2 separate regions of the Homo sapiens genome follow, and region 2 is linked to region 1. The links come from fine-mapping of genetic effects on gene expression. Tissue or cell type: subcutaneous fat. Region 1 holds a variant in brackets; the other region holds the start of a gene. All regions are shown on one strand. Distances are between the middles of the regions.

Region 1 (12,417 bases):
CTTCTGGGACCTTATGTTCCCTTCATGTTAATTTTCAAGTGCTTGAGAAAATCCAGTGTGATACTTCATTGACTCTCCCCTTTCTCATGAATTCTACCTCAGAAAATCCTGTCCGAACAGGCTACCCTCATGCCTAAAGCAGCTGTTTCATGTATTTCGTTTAAGTTTTGTTACTGTTAATGGTGGGTTGGTCCAATAACATCCACAGTCATGCTGGGAACAAAAATTTTTTACTCAAATATTTTAAGCCAAATAATGCTTATTCTATTTTTATGGGTGAAATAATTAAATCAGAATTTTCACAATAATGACTATTTCTATACGAAAAAGTTCTCCACTGTTCACAGCTTAACATCACATTAAATCCATTGGTGTCAGCTGCCTCATTTACCACATGCGACCATAAGGCCCGGCTCTTTTGGCCTGTGACAGAAGTCAGTGTATTTTCTCCCTGTGCCACATGTGTCCCTGCTCCCAGTCCTGGGTTTCTGTGTTGATGCCGAGGTATAAGATACCCATAGTAAGAGCACACACATGCACAGCCAGATTTCCTTTGATATCAGATTAAGAAGTGGTTCCTGCAGAAATTTTTAGATAAGGGCTAGTAAGTTTTGAGTCATCAGGTCATTGCCATGGAAAGGGAGGTAACCCCTGGGTATTGCCATGGCAGTGGTAAATAGATATGGCAGACTGGTGGGTATCTCTGGAAAGTTGCTTTTGCTATGGCTTTGTTTTAGCTACTCCTCAATCTGGTCCAGTGTCTGAGCCCTACCTCTGGAGTCAAGTCCCACCCCCTACCTCATCCTCTCCTCAGAGATTAGATATTCCTCCTTAATCTTAAGGGTGCTGTAGAAGGGCAGAAGTCTGTATTCTGTAACTGCTTCCTGCTGAGCTTATGGGCATAGGCCCTGCCTAGCACTGGAGGAGTAAAAATCCCTGGGTACAGGCCGGGCACGGTGGCTCATGCCTGTAATCCCAGCACTTTGGGAAGCCGAGGCGGGCAGATCACAAGGTCAGGAGATGGAGACCATCATGGCTGACACAGTGAAACCCCGTCTCTACTAAAAAAAATACAAAAAATTAGCTGGGCATGGTGGCGGGTGCCTGTAGTCCCAGCTACTCGGGAGGCTGAGGTGGGAGAATGGCATGAACCTGGGAGGCAGAGCTTGCAGTGAGCCAAGATCATGCCACTGCACTCCAGGCTGGGTGACAGAGCGAGACTCCGTCTCAAAAAAAAAAAAAAAAGAAAAAAGAAAAATCCCTGGGTACCTCAACTAAGGGACCCACAGGCAGGACACTTTTTCATTCTCTGGGTCAGTAAACAGGATGGTTGGAATTCTTCTGCCAGCATTGTCTTTACCTGGAAGTTTTGTAATCTAGAAGACACAAACTTTACTAAGAGGTTAAACAAGGAAGTGACAAAGAATAGTAAGATAGCTATCAAAGGTCCTAGGAGAGGTAAAGACCAGTGAGACTTGGGAAGGTACTTTTCATAGATGACCAGATACAGTTGGGAGTCAGTGCCCTGATTATGTAACCAGGTAACTTGCTCATAGATCTTTTGAATGTTAATCTCAACTTGTCCAGATTTGTTAATATACATGCAGCAGGTTTTACTAATAACTTCACAGACTCCTCCTTGTTCAGCTAGTAAATAATTCAACACTAGTCTCTTATAGAGAACTAAATTTGCCAAAGAGTCTAAGGACTTGATTTCCCTTTAATGCCTGACCTGTGATAGTGGCTAAGCTTTCTAAGGGTTTGAGTCAAGTTCCTTAGAGTTAAGTCATGGTAGACAAAGCTGCCCCAGGGTGCTGCTAATCCTATCACTGCCCTCATTTCTGCCAGAATTAATCCTATCGCTTGCTTACTTCTGGTATTCTTGGGTCTATTGGGGTTATAGACAGTGACCCCTGGTGAGTCAAGGGGGGGCAATGTACATTCACTTCTGTTCCAAGTACTTGACAAAGAAAAGCTACTCCTAAAAGAACAGGTGACTCCCTAGAGTTGGGAGTGGTTACAGATTCTGATTTATTCCCGTTCATGGCCACAAACAGAAGCCCTATGGGGTATGATGTTTATTCTTTGCTGTCAAGTTGGGTCTATAGAGATATTTTCTCCCTGTTCCAGTGGGGGTGGTCAGATAATCTTTGTTTCCCAGAAGTGGGCAGTACTTCCACCTTCCTGGACTGGGCAGTCATTTCTCCTTTGTATGTTCTGATCCAGAAATCACCATATATGTTTTCTTCTCACTTACAAGTGGAATCCCACTTACTGCAGCCTTGGAAACTTGACAACTATAGTTGGATCAGAGAGCATCACTCCACTTTTGTGTCATTAACACAGACGTGAGAGCAAAGGATAGAATCATTTGTGCACTGGAGATATGGATATCTAACTTCCCAGGTCCAGGGAATAGTGGTGGAGGAGGGGTTCAAGTGGAATACATTAAGTGGGTGAGAGCTGCACTTAACTAGTAGGGGTTTGATTATTTCTGGATTGCTATGGTTAGTTAGGAGGCCAGGGGGGATGGTCATGAGATTTTCCAGGTAAGCCAGAAGATATAACTCTCTATCCTGGGGATGTTGATGACAAATCTAACAACTGTGAAGATGATTCCCTGATGCTATAATCTTAGAAATCTTTACTATAGAGTTATGTTCTCACCCACACTGGATCAGGGTAATTGGAAGAGCAAACATCAACAGTGACAACATGGTGTCCAGCTAGGCATTAGCATGGTCTCTATACCCAACAAGGACAAAACAGGTGTTTTGCAGAAGTTGGCTAAAGCAACATAAAAGAAGTTCAATTAAGAAGAAGAGAAAAATTAAGCTCCTATTCCCACCCACAGCATCACATTTCCACTTTTAGCTGAGTGTTGAATCTTTTAAATAGGTACCAGAGGTCTTCCAAAAACTCATAGATGTAGGTCATGATGTCCTCTTTTTGTGCCTGTGACTCAGAAACAGGTTTAATCATGGACAGGTATACCCAACTGGTTCTTCCCTGAAGTTTCACAGTGGTGGGAGTACTCAATAAAACCTGATAGTGGGCCTTCCATTTTGGTTGTAGTTGATCTTCAGGGGATATTTCTTTCCAAGTTTTCAGCAAAACTGCATCTCCTGGTTGAATAGGGGGGTTAATTCTTTTATTAATCTCCTGGTTGAATAGGGGAGGGGGGAATACTTTGTTTCCATATGCTTGGAGGGCCTTTTGAACCTGGCTTCTTCAGGCAGCGGGGAATAGGGGCCTGGGCTTGTTGGATAAGTGGGAGGGGTTCCTGATGACTTTGGAGTGTAATTCTGCACCAAAGAACTAGTGGGGTCCCCCTCAAAAGTAGGAGACTGGGGAGGCTCTGAAGTGGGAGCACAGATCTCAGAGGAACAGCTAAAAGGGGGTCATCTAGGGTATCTGGTGCAGCTTCAGACACATTCTACAGCTAGCCCTTAGATTAGGATCCTGGTAGAGGGAAATAAAAGCCTGCACATAGCAAACTTCTTACCATTTTATTTCCTTTTCACACAACAAATCTAACTGTATGATATCATTATAATGTAAAGAACCGTGTCTAGAATAAATATGTTGGTTTATCAATTTTTATTGAATCCAAACATTATTGCAATAGTAAACAAGGTTTTTCTTTTTCAACCTGTCTAATAATTTGAAGCTACTCCAATGGCCTAAATGACACCCGAGTGGCGAGTCTTTTTGAATGCTTACTGTTGTCCCCATGTCTAGTAAGGCTCACTACAAGGGGTTTTAGTTAGCCTAAGTTTAGCAAATGCATACTTACTTTTCCCTTTTCATTTCCCACTTTCTATAGTTGCCAAGGTGTTACAAAAGTAGATTAGGAAAACCTAGCCAATACCAATCAGGACATAGGCGTGGGCAAAGACTTCATGACTAAAACATTGTAGGGAAAAGAAATAGAGATCAGACTATTACTGTGTCTATGTAGAAAGGCAAGACATAAGAAATTCAATTTGGACCCGTACCTTAAACAATTGCTTTGCTGAAATGTTGTTAATTTGTAACTTTGCCCCAGCCAATTTGACCCAACTTTGAGCTCACAAAAACATGTGTTGTATAGAATCAAGGTTTAAGAGATCTAGGGCTGTGCAGGATGTGCCTTGATAACAAAATGTTTACAAACAGTATGCTTGGTAAAAGTCACTGCCATGCTCTAGTCTCAATAAACCAGGGGTACAATGCACTGCGAAAAGCTGCAGGGACCTCTGCCCTGAAAAGCTGGGTATTGTCCAAGGTTTCTCCCCATGTGATAGTCTGAAATGTGGCCTCGTGAGATGAGAAAGACCTGACCGTCCCCCAGCCCGACACCTGTAAAGCGTCTGTGCTGAGGTGGATTAGTAAAAGAGGAAAGCCTCTTGCAGTTGAGATAGAGGAAGGCCACTGTCTCCTGCCTGCCCCTGAGAACTGAATGTCTCAGTATAAAACCCGACTGTACATTTGTTCAATTCTGAGATAGGAGAAAACCCCCCCCTATGGTGGGAGGCGAGACATGTTTGCAGTAATGCTGTCTTGTTATTCTTTACTCCACTGAGATGTTTGGGTGGAGAGAAACATAAATCTGGCCCACGTGTACATCCAGGCATATACCTCCCCTTGAACTGAATTATGACATAGATTCTTTTGCTCACATGTTTTTTGCTGACCTTCTCCTTATTATCACCCTGCTCTCCTGCCACATTCCTTTTGCTGAGATAATGAAAATAATAATCAATAAAAACTGAGGGAACTCAGAGACCGGTGCCAGTGCAGGTCCTCTGTATGCTGAGTGCCGGTCTCTTGGGCCCACTGTTGTTTCTCTATACTTTGTCTCTGTGCCTTATTTCTTTTCTCA[A/G]TCTCTCATCCCACCTGGTGAGATATACCCACAGGTGTGGAGGGGAAGGCCACCCCTTCAAACATCAAAAGCAATGGCAACAAAAGCCAAAATAGACAATTGGGATCTAATTAAACTAAAGAGCTCCTGTACAGCAAAAGAAACTACCATCAGAGTGAACAGGCAACCTAGAGAATGGGAGAAAATATTTGCAATCTACCCTATCCGACAAAGGACTAATATCCAGAATCAACAAAGAACTTAAACAAATTTACAAGAAAAAAAACAACCCCATCAAAAAGTGGGCAAAGAATATGAACAGACATTTCTAAAAAGAAGACATTTATGCAGCCAACAGTCACATGAAAAAAATGCTCATCATCACTGGTCATCAGAGAAATGCAAGTCAAAACCACAATGAGATACCATCTCACACCAGTTAGAATGGTGATCATTAAAAAGTCAGGAAACAACAGATGCTGGAGAGGATGTGGAGAAATAGGAAGGCTTTTACACTGTCAGTGGGAGTGTAAATTAGTTCAATCATTGTGGAAGACAGTGTGGCAATTCCTCAAGGATCTAAAACACGAAATACCATTTGACCCAGTGATCCCATTACTGGGTATATACCCAAAGGATTATAAATCATGCTACTATAAAGACACATGCACACATATGTTTATTGTGGCACTATTCACAATAGCAAAGACTTGGAACCAACCCAAATGTCCATCAGTGACAGACTGAATTAAGAAAATGTGGCACATATACACCATGGAATACTATGCAGCCATAAAAAAGGATGAGTCCATGTCCTTTGCAGGGACATGGATGAAGCTGGAAACCATCATTCTAAGCAAACTATCACAAAGACAGAAAACAAAACACCAAATGTTCTCACTCATAGGTGGGAGTTGAACAACGAGAACACATGGACACAGGGTGGGGAACATCACACACACACTGGGGACTGACAAGGGTGGGGGCTGGGAGAGGGATAGCATTAGGAGAAACACCTCATGTAAATGACAAGTTGATGGGTGCAGCAAACCAACATGGCACGTGTATACCTGTGTAAAAACCTGCAGGTTGTGCACGTGTACCCTAGAACTTAAAGCATAATTTTTAAAAAGTGGATTATGAGCTTCAAATGGGCAGTTGGATTTTGAACCTAAATGCCACAGACAGCAACGGTTGGTAGAGAGGTGGGCTCAAAAATGGAAGGGAGGGACTGTGGAAGGGAGAAATGGAAGAGGTAAACAGTGCTGCCCAAGGGGAGACCTCAGAGGCCCTGACCTGCTGGGTAACCTATCCCGTAGCAGAGACACTGAAAAAAATATTCACGTGGCCAATTGCCTACCACTGTAGGTGGCTCTCCATTATGCCAGGGGCCTGGGAATTCCCATTTCCTTGGACCAAGAGTGGCTTGAGCAAGCTAGTTGGAAGACAGCATAAAGGAAGGGTTAGCAGCTTGCTATTAGGAAAATACTTCTAACTTATAGGGCAGAAAAGGGCAAGACCAATACTCCCCTAGGGAGAGGGCTATAACTCATATATCCCTCAGAATCCTAGAGGGAATGTCAACACAAATACTCCAGATCATATGGGGGGTGGCCAGAATACCAATGTTGAAAACTCAGAAGGCCCAAGTTTCAGCCAACAAGGGTCCCTTCACCAAATCCTGAAAACCCTGGGGCACCCAGAATGCGGCCAACAGTCAATCCAAGACCAAATTGGGGTCAGCAAACAACATGACTCTAGCATCCCGAAGTAAAAACAGTGGGGATCTCTCACAACCAAGTATCCTGCCTTAATCGTCCCCAAACAATTAACAGAAAGGTAAAACCAAACATAAGACTGCACACATTTTAGGACTGAAAATAAAATAACTAATGGAACAACACAATGGAGTCCGAAGAGAAAGTACTCAGGGAAGGGGTGACAAGGACATGCTCTAGCCAAAGACGTTTATTTCATTTCCTAGTTCTCCTGATACTATGGCGATGGGGGCATAAGGGACACTCACCTGTCCACCAGAGCACATATGGTGCTGACTGATTTTCCCCATGGGACCCAGGTGAAGATCTCGCCAGGATACCTCAGCTTGGGTGGACTTAACTGCCACAAAGGGTGGGTCCTGCACAGGGGGGGCCTGTAACCCACTGGTCGGCCAGTCAGACAGGTGGGTGTCACATAAGGTGGTGACACTATGGCTGCCCTGCCAGTAGGCTCAGCTGCCGCAGTGGGAGGGGCCTGCACTGTGTCAGTAACCCACCAGGCTGCAAATTTTCTGAACTTTTATACTGTGCTTCCCTTATAAAATTGAATGCCTTTAACACCACCCAAGTCACATCTTGAATGATATACTGCTCAGAAATTTCTTCTGCCAGATACCCTAAATCATCCCTCTCAAGTTCAAAGTTCCACATATCTCTAGGGCGGGGGCAAAATACTGGCAGTCTCTTTGATAAAACATAACAAAAGCCACCTTTGCTCCAGTTCCCAACAAGTTCCTCATCTCCATCTGAGACCACCTCAGCCTGGATTTCATTGTCCATATCATTATCCGCATTTTGGTTAAAGCCATTCATCAAGTCTCTAGGAAGTTCCAAACTTTCTCATATTTTCTTGTCTTCTTCTGAGCCCTCCAAACTGTTAGAACCTCTGCCTGTTACCGAGTTCCAAAGTCGCTTCCACATTTTCGGCTATTTTTTCAGCACCATCCCACTCTACTGGTACCAATTTATAATATTAGTCTATTTTCACCCTGCTGATAAATACATACCCGAGGATGGGCAATTTACAAAAAAAAGGAGGTTAAATGGACTTATAGTTTCACCTTGCTGGGGAGGCCTCACAATCATGGCAGAAGGCAAGGATGAGCAAGTCACATCTTAGGTGGATGGCATCAGGCAAAGACAGAGCTGTGCAGAGAAGCTCCTCCTTATAATATCATCAGATCTCATGAGACTTATTCACTATCACAAGAACAGCACGGGAAAGACTTGCCTCTATTATTCAATTACCTCTCACCTGGTCCCTCCCACAACACCAACCATGCTTGGCTAAGTTTTTAGTTCTAGTTTCATAGAGATGGGGTCTCACTATGTTTCAGGCTGATGTCAAACTCCTGGGTAAAGAGACCCTCCAACCTCAGCCTCCCAAAGTGCTGAGATTACAGGCGTGAGCCACCAAAGCTGGCCCGTTTTTCTTGATATATCAAAATTATTCCATACAGTCAGATAACTTTTCTTTTCTTTTCTCTTCTTTTTTTTTTGAGACGGGGTCTCGGTCTGTCGCCCAGGCTGGAGTGCAGTGGCGCGATCTGGGCTCACTGCAAGCTCCGCCTCCCGGGTTCACACCATTCTCCTGCCTCAGCCTCTCGAGTAGCTGGGACTACAGGAGCCCGCCACCACGCCCGGCTAATTTTTTGTATTTTTAGTGGAGACCGGGTTTCACCATGTTAGCCAGGATGGTCTCGATCTCCTGACCTTGTGATCCACCCGCCTCGGCCTCCCAAAGTGCTGGGATTACAGGCGCGAGCCACCGCGCCCAGCCAGTAACTTTTCATGTGGTTACTAACAGCCATGGATTTCCCTGTCCAAGGTACCAGTTTTTCGGTTGCATTTCTCTATATACTCATAGCCGTGGACACTGTCTACCTGTCTGATGAAATTCAAGTAACCTTTTCATTAGGTTTAACTTCCAAGAAATCTAAATGGGTTTCTTATAAACAAAAGCAATCACACTATAGGAAATTTTTCTTTACCTTTCTCACAACTAGCCTAAAAGACAAAAATAAAGATTGTACATGTTATCAAGGCAATTCCTTCCTTGTCTTAATTGGGTTTTAGATTAGTTAGGAAAAGAGCTATAAAAGGGTTAATGTTTTTACATCTATGTAACCTTCTGTATTGCTATTATTTAACAGTGACCCCTGATTCTGTTTGATTGAGTGTTTTGAGTCTTCTGACATCTTTGGCAGGTTTCTTCAAGATTAAAAACCTATATTAAGTCTTTTTGGCCTAAAACTAACTTCGGGATTTTGAAGGTTGACCCCTGGAAACCCTCAAAAATATTGCCTCTTACCTTATAGAGATTAAATGGTTAGACTTATCTGGTAAAATATATGGGCGACATTTTACCACACAGGGCACAAAGGATATCAAGTAATAAGTGATGGAAGATCTTTCAGTTACACTTATAGGTATGTTATTGATATAAATGTTCCTGACATAAATGTTCCAAAAATCATATATATTGATGAAAATCTGTTGTCAGCCATACTTTTGTTTTGTTAAATATCTTCTAAAGTTATATTCATATAAATATGTTATAAATGTAAGTATTCTAAGATTATATACAACTTATAAAGATCTCAGGGACCTGATGCAAAGCTGTAAGACATGATTCTGGTTGTTATAAAATGCTACATATAATAAATATAACCAAATTTTCTTATGAATTGGGAACTTTTGTCAGATTTTAACCGTGGTTAGGATTAGCACAGTGGCTCATACCTGTAATCCCAGGACTTCGGGAGGTTGAGGTGGGAGGATCTCTTGAGCCCAGGAGTTCCAGGCCAGCCTGGGCAACATAGTGCGACCATGTCTCTACAACAGAAAACAAAGTTAGCTGAATGTGGTGGCATGTGCCTGTGGTACCAGGTACTCAGGAGGCTGAGATGGGAGGATGGCTTGAGACCAGGAGGTCAAGGCTGCACTGAGCCATGATTGTGCCACTGCACTCCAGTCTCAAAAAGATTAAAAAACAAAATTTATAACAGTATTACTGTTCCCTCAAAAGCTACTCCTACAGGAGTGGCACAAAGGATATCAGGAAAAAAAAAACCCTCTTAAATGCTATTCCCATTGTCTTCCCACAGAAAATTGCCTGGTCCATTATCGAGTCATGAAAACAAACAAAAAGGATAAACCAGTTCCTTATTACAGAGCTGGACTAAAATCTTATATATAAAACCATTCTAGGCTTAAAATACATAATGAAACAACTGAAATGCCTTACAGCCTTTTAAATGAATAAACTCTTAACAGAGCTTGGAGACCAGATTAAAAAACATAAGATTGGATAGAAAGTCATTGATATGACCCAATTGGTCACTACGAGTAAGCGCTTTGAAAGACTTTTAGAATCATAAAAAATGCTAAAAGAAAGAATAAACAGGCTAATAAACTAATATCTTTACAAGTACAAAAGCTACAGGAACAGACCTCCTTATATCTGTTATAACTCAAAACTGATATGTCCTAAACAAAGGAAACCTGGGTAAGCTCTATACCTCGAGATGGCTGCATTCATTGTAAACAATGAGGTCCCTGGAAGACATGTCATCTGCTCTTGGAGTAGTCCTCTAATAGGCTGGCTCCTTTTGGGCCACACAGTATTCCCATCAGAGAAAGTCCCCGAGGGTTTGACAACAATCCACCCTGCAGGGGTGGAGGACCTGAGGAATTCTCTGGTGAGGAACTTCCTGTAATACCTTTTTTTTGAAATTAAAAAAAATATTGTGGGTACATAGTAGGTATATATACTTATGGGGTACATGAGATGTTATGGTACTGATATGCAATGTAAAATAAGCACATCATGGAGAATGGGGTAATGCATCCCCTCAACCATTTATCCTGTGAGTTACAAACAATCCAATTACACTCTTCTAATTACTTTTAAGTGTACAATTAAGTTATTATTGACTATAGTCACCCTATTGTGCTATGAAATATTAGGTCTTATTCATTCTATTTTCTGTACCCATTAATCATTCCCACCTCCCCCCTGCCAGCTCCCCCTTCTACCACTACCCTTCCCAACCTCTGGTAACCATCCTTCTACTCTTTATGTCCATGAGTTCAATTGTTTTCTTTTCTTTCTTTCTTTTTTTTTTTTTTTTGAGACAGAGTCTCACCCTGTTGCCTAGGCTGGAGTACAATGGCGTGAACTTGGCTCACTGCAACATCCGCCTCCTGGGTTCAAACAATTCTCCTACCTCAGCCTCCCAAGTAGCTGGGATTACAGGTGCCCGCCACCATGCCCAGCTAATTTTTGTATTTTTAGTAGAGATGGGGTTTCACCATGTTGGCCAGGCTGGTCTCAAACTCTTGACCTCGTGATCTGCCCCCACCCCCACCTTAGCCTCCGAAAGTGCTGGGATTACAGTTGTGAACCACCACGCCCAGCCCAATTGTTTTCATTTTTAGTTCCCACAAATACGTGAGAACATGTGATGTTTGTCTTTCTGTGCCTGGCTTAATCCACTTAATATAAAGATCTTCAGTTCCATCCATATTGTTGCAAGTGACTGGATCTCTTAGTTTTTTATAGATGAATAGTACTCCACTGTGTATACATAACACATTTTCTTTATCCATTCATCTGTTGATGGACACAGGTTGCTTCCGAATCTTAGCTATTAACTAATACTAAGATGATGAAGATTCTTGTACACTATTTGTGGTCACTGGAGTCACTGTATTCACTTTAATAACAACTCTAATAAATCAAAGTATCCCTCTGAGTAAAAAAATACTTCTGTGATGGGTGTTTCAAATCCTATCCAGGGAATCCCCATGTCTCAACCTGTCCATATCATGCTTGGATCATTTTAGAAAAACATGCTTTCCTACTATGTGATACTGCCCCAGGAAATGTGATGGAATGACATTTACTTTCTGAGTTGAGAGAACACATAACATTCTGTTTCAAGGGAGAAATCATCTTGGAATTTCCGGATTCTCCAGAACACAAAATTATTAATTAAATTATTAAAAGAATTAAACCTATAAAATATCAAATAGACTATTCTAAGCCATTGCCTAAATTTTCCCAATATCCACTAAAATTGGAGGCAGTTCAGGGACTTTCACCAATTATAGAGGAATTAATTAAATGAGGACTTATAATTCCTTCACTACTCCCTACAACATTCCAATCCTACCAATCAAAAATCTAATGGACAAGTTGGAGACTTGTTCAAGGTTTACGTGCAGTAAGCAAAACTGCAATCCCAAGATTTCCTGTGGCCCTAAATCCAGAAACCAAACAGAGGAAAATTTAATAGAACCAGGTCTTTATGGAGGTCACTGTCACCACATCTGAGTAACTTGGGTGCAGAATCTGGGGACATGATTGACTTTCCTTAATTGGATCTACACAATTTACCTGAGGAGAAATGTTTTGCTAAAGAGGCTAGCCTTGATTAGATTTGGCTTAACAGGAGCCAAGTTATTCAGGTGGGTCCCTTGGATTATACAGTTGATGAGATGATAGGACTGATTAGCATATATAATTGATGAGGTTATCAACTGCATAAAAAGAGGGCTCACCACTCACATGGTGCTTTCCCAGGAGAGTGGAAGAAGCTCTGAGCACCGGAGTGTGGTGACAGCGACCTCCATAAAGACCTGGCTCCATTGGATTTTCCTGTTTGGTTTCTGGTGAGTACTGGAGAAATTTTTACCAGGGCAGACGCATCCCATTTATTTTCGTCAATAAATTTTAACGTGAAAATTATTGTTTAATTGGACTACAGGTATTTGGTGGCAAGCTCTCTGAGA
Region 2 (12,417 bases), 24 kb before region 1:
GCCAGGCGTGGTGGCTCAATCCTGTAATCACGACACTTTGGGAGGCAGAGGCGGGTGGATCATCCGAGATCGGGAGTTTGAGACCAGTGTGACCAACATGGAGAAACCCCGTCTCCACTAAAAATACAAAAAATTAGCCAGGCATGGTGGCCCATGCCTGTAATCGCTGCTACTCAGGAGGCTGAGGCAGGAAAATCACATGAACCCGGCAGGCGGAGGTTGCAGTGAGCCAAGACCGCACCACTGCACTCCAGCCTGGGGAAAAGAGCAAGACTCGGTCTCCAAAGAAAAAAAGAGAGACTGAAAAGACAACCTACAGAAAAGAAGAAAATATTTGTGCATTATATATCCAACAACAGTCTGTTAACTACAATATATAAAAAATTTGTATAACTCAACAACAACAACCAAATTACAAATGGAGAAAGAGCTGAACACACACTTCGCCAAAAAGACATGCAAATGGAAAACAAGCACATGAAAAGATGATCAACATCGTTATCATTACGGCCATCAAAACTGAAACCACAACCAGATACTCCTTCACACACACTAGAAAGGCTATAATCCAACAAATGTAAAATAACAAGTGTTGGCAAGCTCAGAGAGAAATCACAACCCTTAAATACTGTATGTGGAAGATAAAATGGTGCAGCTTATTTGTAACATAGTTTGGTATTTCCTTAAAAAGTTAAAAATAGGCTGGGCAAGGTGGCTCACGCCTGTAATCCCAGCACTTTAGGAGGCTGAAGCAGGCAGATCACTTGAGCCCAGGAGTTCAAGACCAGCCAGTACGACACAGCCAAACCCCATGTCTACTAATACAAAAATGAGCCAGACATGGTGGCACATGGTGGCAGACATGGTGGCACACAGCTGCAGTCCCAGCTACTTGGGAGGCTGAGGAAGAAGGACTGCTTGACCCCATATTGTGGAGGTTGCAGTAAGCTGAGATCGCACTATTACACTCCAGCCTGGGCAACAGTGCAACACCCTGTCTCAAAAATAAAAATAAAAATAAAAAGGGCCAGGTAAGATGGCTCACACCTGTAATCCCAGCACTGTGGGTGGCTGAGGCAGGCGGATCACCTGAGGTTGGGAGTTCGAGACTAGCCTGACCAACATGGACAAACCCCATCTCTACTAAAAATACAAAATTGGCTGGGCGTGGTGGTGCATGTCTGTAATCTCAGCTACTCAGGAGGCCTAGGCAGGAGAATCGCTTGAACCTGGGAAGCAGAGGTTGCGGTCAGCCGAGATCGCACCATAATACTCTAGCCTTAACAACAAAAGCGAAACTCCGCCTAAAAGGAAAAAAAAAAATTAGCCAGTGTGGTGGTACAGACCTGTAATCCCAGCTACTCAGGAGGCTGAGGAAGGAAGATTGCCTGAACCTGGGCGATGGAGGTTGCAGTGAGCCGATATCAGGCCACTTCACTCCAGCCTGGGCAAAAGAGCAAGACTTGTCTCCAAAAAACAGAACAAGAAAAAGGAAATGCATGGGACGAAGTGGCATATCCTGAAATGAGGACTTTCCTTCTGGACTGGGGTTTCCGATGAAGGTGACAGTTTATCCTTCAGTCTCCACAGGTCACGAATTTGCCGTCCACCAAGAGGCAACAGAGGGAGCCCCGCCAAGTCCCATGCCAGAACTATGACATAATCACATTCCCTCACTCATTTCAGTACCTAAATATTAATAATTCATCAGCTTAAACATCTACACTTACTTTACCAATTTTCCATTGTATAGATGAAGAGGTTTCCAAATTTTATATAGGTTGTCATGATGTGGACAGGACTTTTTGATAGTTAACTATAGCGAATGACTAAAATATAAGTGTTTAAACCTAAAATACCTTGTAACTGTTAACACAGGGCTACAGAACACAGCAACGTAACAGTCTGTCCAGTAAATTCTTCTGAAATTCCTTTTTTTTTTTTTATAGACGGAGTCTCACTGTCACACAGGCTGGAGTGCAGTAGCACAATCTCGGCTCATTGCAGCCTTCACCTCCTGGGTTCAAGCGATTCTCCTGCCTCAGCCTCCTGAGCAGCTGGGACTACAGGTGCATGCCACCACACCAGGCTAATTTTTGTATTTTCAGTAGAGATGGGATTTCACCATCTTATCCAGGCTGGTCTCGAACTCCTGACATCAGGTGATCTGCCTGCCTCAGCCTCCCGAAGTGCTGGGATTACAGGAGTGAGCCACTGCACCCAGCCCTCTTCTGCAATTTCAATAATCAATTGTGCTATTTGTCTTTCTTTCAGCAATGAGATTTTATTTTTCTTTCCTAATTATTTCAAACATGAACTTTGGTTCCAGAGAACTAGTATTTCCTTGATTTATAAATTGAGGGCAGCTGGGCACGGTGGCTCAGGCCTGTAATCCCAGCACTTTGGGAGGCCAAGGCAGGCAGATCACTGGAGGTCAGGAGATCAAGACCAGCCTGGCAAACATGGTGAAACCTGATCTCCACTAAAATTGCAAAAAATAGCCAGCCATGGTGGCAGGTGCCTGTAGTCCCAGCTACTCAGGAGACTGAGACAGGAGAATCGCTGGAACCCGAGAGGTGGAGACTCTGGTGAGCCAAGATCATGCCACTGCACTCCAGCCTGGGTAACATAGGGAGATTCTATCCTCAAAAAAAAAAAAAAAAAAAAATTGACGGTCGTCTCACAGACAATCTAATAATGAATTATTTTTTTGTCTTTAGAAAATCAACATTAACTTTTCTACTTTTAGATATCGTAATTGCTGTGACTTGAAGGACTTATCTAGAAAAAGCCTTAAAAAACTACGGTCAGCACTGGGTGAATGGGTTGAGGGAACCCACATAAAATCCCCAAGACACCTGGGAGTCCATGTCCCCATGAGTGGGACTGCAGGCAGCTGTAGCAGACTGGATGGGAGAGGACAGCAGGCAGGAGAACTCGGTGTCTGGAGTCCACGGTTCTAAGGCCAGTGAAAACCACTGGCAAAGTGAAATCCGAAGCTTGACAGGATGAAATTTGTGATTGTAAATGAATATTTGCCATTTCCAAGTGAGATCGCCAGTGGTGGTGGGATGGACGGGTGCTCCTCCAAGTGGGCTGCAGTGAGGAGAGCGCGGCACCACGCCAGGATGCTCCTGCCAGGAACACAGGATCTGCACACGTTTAGGAGGAAACGCTGGGCAGACCCAGCTTGGAGTCATCTCTGCTCTTTACATCTGTTAAGGCTGTGAAAACTGAGAGTCGGCCGGATGCAGTGGTTCACGCCTGTAATCCCAGCACACTGGGATGCTGAGGCGAATGGATCACCTGAGGTCAGGAGTTCAAGACTAGCCTGGCCAACATGGTGAAACCCCATCTCTACTAAAAATACAGAAAATTAGCCGGGTGTGGTGGTAGGTGCCTGTAATTACAGCTTATCGGGAAGCTGACGCAAAAGAATATCTTGAACATGGGAGGCAGACGTTGCAATGAGCAGAGATGGCGCCATTGCACTCCAGCCTGGGTGACAGAGGGAGACTCCCTCAAAAAAAACAAAAAACAGAACACTGAGTCTCAGGAACAGTTCCCGAGAAGGAAAATTGGGCCCGCATGGAAATAGACATTTTTCTCCCACCTAGGGCAGGGAGTGAAGTGAAATAGGTCTGTGGAGTGGACTTTCACATAGAAACCATGTATTTCCTAAATTGGGGGTTACTTGGGGATCACCTGGAGGAGTATTCCTGGTTTTGGTGAAACACACGGGGGTATTTTTTGTGAAGCTGCAAATCTGGCACAGCAATAACGGCTGGGGAACTGGAGATCAAGGAGAAGGCATACTAAGTGCTGTTGCAAGTTTCCCAGAAGTATGACATTATTGGGAAGTAAACTACTTTTTAAAACAACCGTGGCAATACCACGTCAGTAAGCCAGAGACAACACCATGAAGTTTCATGACAGAGGCCAAATGCAGCCCAAACCCAGCCCAGCAGAGGCTGTCAACTCAGCGCCCCAGCGAGAGCCGGAAGGTTCCATCCTCAGAGCTGCAGACCCTCTCGTGTGGGCTGCAAAGGCCATGTCTGCATCCCGGGCGGTATGTACGCTCTGAGAGATACATGCGTGTTCCGGGGGTTATATGAGTGTGACGGGTGTGGCGTGAGTCTGACTGTGTCACGGGCGTTCCAGGGGTTACGTGTGTGCTCTGAGGGACACATGCGTGTTCCGGGGGTTATATGAGTGTGACGGCTGTAGCGTTAGGTGACGATGTCATCTCCGCGTTCCAAGCGTTATGTGCGCACTGAGGGACACATCCACGTTCCCGGGGTTGGATGTGGAAGGCAGCTACCCCGACGGGTGTGCTCTCTGCATACGACGGGTGCTAACACTAGCATCACAGATGCAGTGTTATTAGCACTACAGAGGTTATTGTCAGTGTGGCGGGTGTTCTAGTTGCTTTCCTGACACTACATTTCTGTTCCAAGACCGCAGCTTGGCCCTGTGGCCGCCTCGCCTTGGGTGTGGAGAATGAACCTCGAGTGCGCTGGATTCACAGGGGATTTTGGTTTCTAATTTTCCACATGAAGGGTCTCTACCCCTCAGCAGTCAGGGCTGAAAACAGGAAGGATTTTACTCAACCATGGACGCCGCCGGCTCAAGGTGTCCCAAAGCGAGGGGCGTTTCCTGGTATGTGCTGAGGAGAACGCGGCTCCCGCCCTTGCAGGGTGCAGGCGCGGAGGAAGCGTGCGGGATGCGGCCGCCTCAAGGCTCAGAAAAGCCGGGCTCGCGCGTGCTCTGCTGGCGGCCGGGGGCACTGCAGCGCCCTAGAGCTCAAGGCACTGTCGGAAGCTGAGCGCCCTCTGCTACCCCTCCTGCTGCACCAACTAAAAGACAGCATGGAGTGTTCGGCGCCATCATTCTAGAAATGCAAACTGACACAGAGCCCATTAGCCCGTGAGTTTCTAAAAATGCAGAAGGGACAATTAATTGGAAACCATAGGAAATGAAATCAACATGAATGCACATTTTACAACTTATGCAAAAAGTCACTCAACATAGTCCTCAGACTTAAAATGCAAAACCGTCAGAGGCCTCTTAACCACAGTGACTTTATTTCAAATAAAGGCTTTTAAAAAGTTAAATCTGGGCAGGGTGCAGTGGTCACATCTGTAATCCCAGCACTTTGGAAGGCCAAGGCGGGTGGATCACTTGAGATCAGGAGTTGAAGACCAGCTTGGGCAAATAGCAAGACCCTTATGTCTACAAAAAATATATATATATATTAGATGGCATGCTTGCACATACCTGTAGTCCCAGCTACCCAGGAGGCTGAAGCGGGAGGATTGCTTGAGCCCAGGAGTTCGAGGCTGCAATGAGCCAGCCATAATCGCACCACTGCACTCCAGCCTGGGCGACAGAGTGAGACCCTGTCTCTCTCTCTCTGTCACACACACACACACGTTAAATTTGTTGGATTATATATTTCGGGGGTTGAGCACTTTTCGTTATAAAATATTTATGATTGTGGGAACAAGTTAATAAAGACATGAAAGTTATTTAAATGTCCCAGAACTTTAAGAACAAAAAGCATTCTTAGTTTAAAAATAAGTTTTACTTTAAAGGTAACAGTACACACATAAATTGTTGTTAAAATCGACAGTAACAAAGAGAAGTAACAATACTAATAGCCTGTCACAAACTGATTCTTAATAACCTATATAAACAAACATTAAGCCCGGGCGCCGGGTGGCTCATGCCTGTTATCCCAGCACTTTGGGAAGCCGAGGCAGGCAGATCACTTGAGGCCAGGAGTTCCAGACCAGCCTGACCAACATGGTGAAGCCCAGTCTCTACCAAAAACACAAAAAATTAGCCGGGTATATTGGCACGCACCTGTAATCCCAGCTACTTGGGAGACTGAGGCAGGAGAATCCTTGAACCCAGGAAGCAGAGGTCGCAGTGAGGCGAGACCATGCCATTGTGACAGGAGAGAAACTCTGTCTCAAAAAAAAATTATATGTTTACAACAGGTGCATTTCTCCTCTTGCTTTCTGAGGACGCCCTGCTATGTAGCTGAGTAGTCACTAATAAACTATCTTAACTTCACTATACTCTGTGACTTGCCAAAAGGTCTTTCCCATGTGAAATCCAAAAACCTGTTCTTGGGGTCTAGGACAAGACCCATTTTATAATGACAAAACTATACAAATTCTAGAGGGAAACATAGAAAGAAAGCTATGTGACCTTGCGTTTGGCCATGAGTTTTAACACGACACTATCAGAGGCATTTGAACCCCTCCTCTATATGAACTCCAGGGTGGTTTATGTTCCATTGGCTAAGAGAAAGTTTTCTTCAAAAATGTGACATGATTTGAGGTCAAACATTAATATCAAGTAAACTCAAAAGATTGAGAAGCTAGCATTAGTTCTGGGAAAACCAGAAGTGTGCCTTTTTTGGAAATAATCATTGGTAGCACAAACTTAAGAATCTCCAAAGGAAATAAAAATGAGTTATTAACTTACAGTTTTCACCAATTAAGATATAAATGAAGCTAACGAAATCCGGAAATACAATTTCACTGTTTTTAATGTTCATTAAAAAAAAATCCTTATCAAATAGCCCCAGTAAGTCACCAATTAAGTCTTTACTACTTAAAAGCAAAATCCACCTATGTCCTGAACAGTATCCACTTTACGAGCCTCATTATATGTACGAGATAAAATTCAGAAATAAATAAATATACATGTATACGTATACAAATATATTTCAAATTAAAAAATACTTTTAGATAGTGGTATGTATTACATTTAGAAATTAATAACGAAGTAAATTATGGGATGTCATCCACGCCTGTCCCAAAGGTACCGAATTTATAAATCATCTCAGGTGCGGAGCAGGACAGGTTGAAAATAGGAATGACATGAACCCGCGCGGAACAGCTGCCGGCGCGGTGTCCAGGGCGGCACCCCGCCCGGTCCCGGCCCCTCCAGCCCTGGGCCCGACCCCTACTACGCCTCTGCCTCGACGCGAACGCGGAGCCCGAGCGCGCGTCACGCCGTGTGGGGCCGAAGAGGCTGCTACCCAGAGGCGGAGTGCGGGCTCGCGAGGGTCCCCACCCGACTCTCGCTCCCGCCAGCACCTACGGACTCGCGTCCCCGCCGCGCGCCGACTCGGGAGCAGCACCGCCCCCGGCACAGGAGCCTCACGCGCCTCTTACCTAACAGGAAGTTGGGTGGAAGCAGCGCGGACCCACGGCACACCGAACGCACTCCAACAGAACCCGACGCAGACACGCGCTTTCAACCGGCGGAGACACTGGCAGGGCCAGAAACGCGCGCAGCGGGGGCGGGAGGTCGGTAAGCTCCCCGCCCCTGCCCGAGACCCCGCCCCGGCCCGGCCCCGCCTTTTTCTCTGCCTCCCCTCCCTGCACGTACGGGCCCCGCCCCTCGCGCGACGTTTTTTGTTGACCCGGAAACGGATTCTCCGGAGCCGAGGTCCGCTCGGGTGAGTGCCCTCCGCTTTTTGTGGCCAAACCCAGCCACGCAGTTCCCTTCCTGCGGCGTCCTCCACACCCGGGGTCTGCTGGTCTCCGCGGATGTCACAGGCTCGGCAACCGCCCTCCTGTCGGCGGGGAGTCCCGCGACGCCCGGAAATGCTCCGAAGCCTGTCGCCCAGCTGCCAGATCTGCGTCTGTGTCCGGTTCCGTCACTGAGGTCGCCCCTGTCCGGCCCTTCCACCCTAGTTCTCTTCACCGTCCGCCCATCCTATCGCGCGCGGCCTCAGGTCCCGATTCGGCATGTGGCTTGTCTTCCATCGTCCCCACCCTCGCCCCTCTTGGCCCCTCAGGGCAGCCCTGGGATTCGGCAGACGCCAGTCCTCCCTGAGATGCTTCCCCATCCTTCCCTCCGCCAGGCCCTACGTCTCCGCAAACCCCACGCTTCGGGGTGGCCGCCTCAGACAGGACCCTGAGTCCGAGACTGGGGTAGGGGACCTGCCCGATCCTGTAACAACCCTCGTGCTTCTGCACAATCGCCTCCCACTAGCGGTGACTGTTGGGTGTTTACCTTCCCGGTGTCCCACTGAGAAGCGGGCTCTTCCTTGGCAGGGGCTTCTTCATTGCCTCGCTGTGGATGTCGAGGTGGGGCAGGAGAGTGAGGAGAAAACAGAGGAGGGAGGTAGAGCCAACGAGCGAGAAAAGGGGAGGGAAGTTTAGATGGGAAGTGGATGGGTCTGAGGAATTTGAACAAACACCGACAATGAAGGAGAGTGACCTGAGCAAGTAGTAGTGGGGTAAATGGAAATAGACAAAATGGGAATCAGCAGAGATATGGAGGACAGAATACAATGAGGAGGCCTTGACCGTCAGTAGCAGAGAGGGCAGCAGAAGCCTAATTCCCAAATTCTTTAGATGGTTTTCTGATTTCCAAATTAGTTTCCCTTTTAAATTTATTGTGTCAGGTTCAGCTTATGAGGCCTCAATACTTTTCAGTCTTAATTGTATATTGAAAATACTTTTTGTTTACTAAATGCTTTTTACATTAATTCAGTGTGCACTTCGTAAGGATAATGATGATTTGAGTTAGTTTAGTATTCAACAGCTTCCTCTATTCCTTTATATGATCTCTGTATTTAATGGCTGTGGCATAAAGTTTCCAACTAAGTTTAAGTATCAAGTTTTCTTTGTGCTGTTTTCTGCAAATATTGAAGGATGACCTGGATTGTCCTAGAACTTTGTTCCAACAGATTACATGTGTTCATAATGAATAGACTGCTCAAAGATATTTCCAAAGCTCACCTTTTATGTTTTTCAGTTCCAATAATTACATCTTTTTAAGGTTTATATTTTTTGATGACTTAATGTGATGTTCTGGAGAAGACAAATGCTTTTAATCAATATGATTAAAACCGTGAAAGACAAATCGCTGTTACTTAAGAGTGTGACATATGATCTGAAATCTTTAGGGGGCAGGGATGTTAAGGGAAAACTGCCACTATCGTATTAAGGTCATGCCATTCCTGTGAAGCTGGTGCTTGTTACTCTCTACTGGCTTCTGTTCACCTTTCCACCGGCCCCAAGACACACACATAGTGACACAAGGCAGTGGACAGGGAAAGAGCAAGACTTTATAAAGTAAGCACACAACAAAGGTATCTTTCTAATGAGGAGGAGGTGTTGGTTCTGGGAAGGAAGCTTGGGATTTGGGTATTCAGGATCCAGAAGTGAGAGAGCCTGGGAAGTTCAGGAACCAGAGAAAGAAAAAGCCTTGCCCATTCTCACCCATGACACTGTGCTCAGCAGGTACTAGCAGACTTCAGGCTCTGTGACTAAAAGGGGTCAGACCAGTTGATATACCCACAGCTGCCATGTAAGGATGTGTGTGGACTTCACTAGGGAAGAACGGTGTTATGAAAGAAGGGGCAGAAAAACTCACCTGTTGGTCTGCATGTAGAGGTTTATTGTCCTGAATTCCTGGAGGTTCAGTGAAAAGCAGAAGATTGTCTTTTACACATGTTGAGTTATGCCCCCATATATGTGGTTGTGGTAAAGAAAGAGGGTGTGTTGATGAGAGGTCCTGAAATGCATTTTCCTAATACTCAGCAGGGGCTTCTCAAGAAGGATCTTCCCTAAGAAAGAAGCTCAGAGAACAAAAATGGAAAAGGATTAGATATGGCACTTTCACTGGAAAAAGTCATGTTATTCATTGATTGTTTTGTCATCTCCCGCCTTAAGTGTTGTTTTTAGGATGTGGTAATCTCTGACCCTGCCTAACACATTTCCCAACTCACCCATAGCCTTCCCTTAACGTCCTCCCATCTTCACGCTATCACACTGTGACCCAGTGAATTCGAACTTGTGAAGTTCCATTCGGGGGATCATATGGGAAGGGCTTCACACCCAGACATAGATTATAGATGGGAAGTGGGCCACATGGTGTCAGTGAGGCAAGTATGGGTCGTTTAGGGACAATGCACTGTCAGATCTTTGTTGACCATGATTAGAGAAACTGTGCATATTAGTAGTGAATTAATGTCAGGAATATCTGACAAATCCTGGAAAAGAAGATTGATGAGAGGAAATGTGTTCTGCCCAACTGTATAATGCATTTGAAGCTTAAAACAATGAATCAGTATTGATCTGGCCACAAAATATTAATGATTTGAATTAAAAAGAAAAGTTTAGAAAATGATAGCTTTGACAAATTAAGGTAGCATTTCATCCACACGATGGAGTGTGTTTTATTCAGTAATTGATTTAAAAATGGAATCAACCTAAGTGTCTAACAGGAGGGAGTTTTATAAATTGTTCACAGAACATCTGTTCCAAGGAGACCTTGATGTTCATAGATTTGTAAAGAATGCTGCTTACTAGCACACTGACTGCTCTGCAAATGTCTGAGGGTTCCTCCACTTGGGGCAAGTTGGGGGTTTGATCGCAGAGTAAATAAATGGTGCATTTTATAATGTAATATATTCTAGCAAGATGCAGCCCACAAACTGTATAGATACTCTTATGTACCACATAAAGTTCATCTACTACTTTAACCAGAACTTGATACTGTATGTATGTTTTTTTTTTTTAGATTTGGATAAAATGACAACTCATTGTTATTTCCAGTTCACAAAGTAATTGTGAGGCTGAATAAATTTTATTATTTTATAGACATATGTGTAAAATGAATTTTTCTATGAAACTCATTTTTGATGTATATTAGATGCTATTTTATATTCTGTAGTTTAATTATATGTACGCACACACAAACACACACTTCGGTGTCTTATTATGTTTCTGCAGTGAAACCAAAATCCTTCCTTCACGCCCTTTGATTTTATGTTTTCCTCAGGAAGGCAGGAGCTATTGTATATGATAAAATATTATGTTTTATTCAGTCCACTTATGAAATTGTTTAATATTGTTATAAATATTTATATGACTTATTTTAAATTTCCAAATAACATAGGTTACATGAAATTTGACAACTTTATTTTTTTCTTTTCACAACTATTTTGACTGTATACTCACCAAAAATCAAAATTTAGACAAAATTGACTTTTAGACTAATTCTCATTTTTTACATGTAAAAGACCACATGGGACTTTTAAGTCTAGGTTGCCCTGAGTCTACAGTCACTGAGGTTTTATGTCACTATGTCCTCCATTCTAATAATAGGATTTTCAGGCTTTATTCATGTCATTTTTATATCCTCATTAAGTTTTAAAATTTATTTACATGGGTCTACAAATTTATTTCAAATCGTAGTCATAATATTTGCCTGTTGTAAATAGACACTGATTTTGTGTGTTTGCTTTTTTTAAGGACTAATGTTGCTAAACAGGAAATATTGATTTCAGAATATTCATAATAGTTTTGCCCACTTTTTAAATATTCTTATTAGTATTGATAATTAGAATTGATTCCACTTTTTCAAGTTTACAGTCACGTCATCTGAGAATAACTACAGTTGCAGCTCTTTGACTCCATTTTTGTAGTCCCTCTCCTTTTCCCTCTTGTTTTGGTCCCACCTCAGGCATCATGTGCAGTGGTGAATGGCATCAGCCTCACCCAGCCTCCTTTTTCCAGCCTTACCTTTAGTGGAAATGGTTCTTTTGTTAACTGCTGAATATATTGTTGAGATTTTATTGATTAAGAAGAATTAGTCCCCACAATTTGGTATGATTTTTAAAGATTTTATATTATTTTTAAAGATTTAAATTATATGAAAATGTTTTTTCAAAGGTCTATTAATGTGATTTTTTTAATCTTTAAAATTACTTTGTGAAAATGATAGGTTTTCTAGTATGGAATTATCCTTTTATTATTGCAATAAACTCCACTTTACCATGCTCTGTCATTATTTAACCATACCAGTGATGGCCAGGTGGCCAAAATAAATAGCCAAATGGCTAAAATTGTATTGATGATTTTTGCAAATGTAAGTAAGGAAAATTGTTGGTTAAATTTGTAGTTATTGTTACATTCATGTTCATTTTGATTAGCATAATAAACTAATGAGGACAGGCTTATTTTTCTCCTTCAAAATAACTTAGGTTACAAAGGAACTAGAAGTGATTTCACATGTAAGAACTCTCACAAATCACTTTTACAGTTAAACTCTGATATATAACTTAAACATTAAAATTGGCTAATCAGATTTTTGTGCTGATTAATGAGGGAAAGTTTTTACTCTTTTTGTGGAAAGTAATATACATATTCATGTTGGAATATAATTATTCCCATTTCTTAGATTTTAAATTACTACTTTTAAATAAATACAGTCTCTTTTATTAACCTGTGTTTTTTCTTTCCACCGTGGGTCTTTTCAGTTTCATGATTTTGCTCTCAAAACTTTTTAATTATTGATTTCTGTCAAATCTGTTCATTCATTACATTATTTTATTATTTATTAAATTGTTTTATCTTTTTAAGTCTTATTAATATGTACTGA

Alleles and levels. Alleles are on the strand shown, and positions count from the first base shown. SD is a standard deviation of normalised expression in the study named.
For the expression in subcutaneous fat of the gene that starts at base 7,518 in region 2, allele G in region 1 goes with a higher level than allele A (moderate effect, 0.52 SD a copy in TwinsUK).

Evidence for each region.
Region 2: ZNF596 starts here. The variant in region 1 is fine-mapped to the expression of ZNF596 in subcutaneous fat (GTEx, PIP 0.95).

What each region holds. Positions count from the first base shown.
Region 1 is chr8:248,859-261,275 of GRCh38, forward strand. LOC101927566 (a long non-coding RNA gene) reads right to left here. Exons shown (of 5, transcript XR_245320.4): 5 at 9,409-9,456. Among named protein-coding and RNA genes, the nearest start is that of ZNF596, 23 kb to the left of the region's middle. The variant A/G (reference allele first, on the strand shown) is at 4,865.
Region 2 is chr8:224,939-237,355 of GRCh38, forward strand. ZNF596 (zinc finger protein 596) reads left to right here and starts at 7,518. Exons shown (of 6, transcript NM_001042416.3): 1 at 7,518-7,756. It also overlaps the pseudogene RPL23AP53. RefSeq lists a silencer at 7,285-7,384 and an enhancer at 7,405-7,724.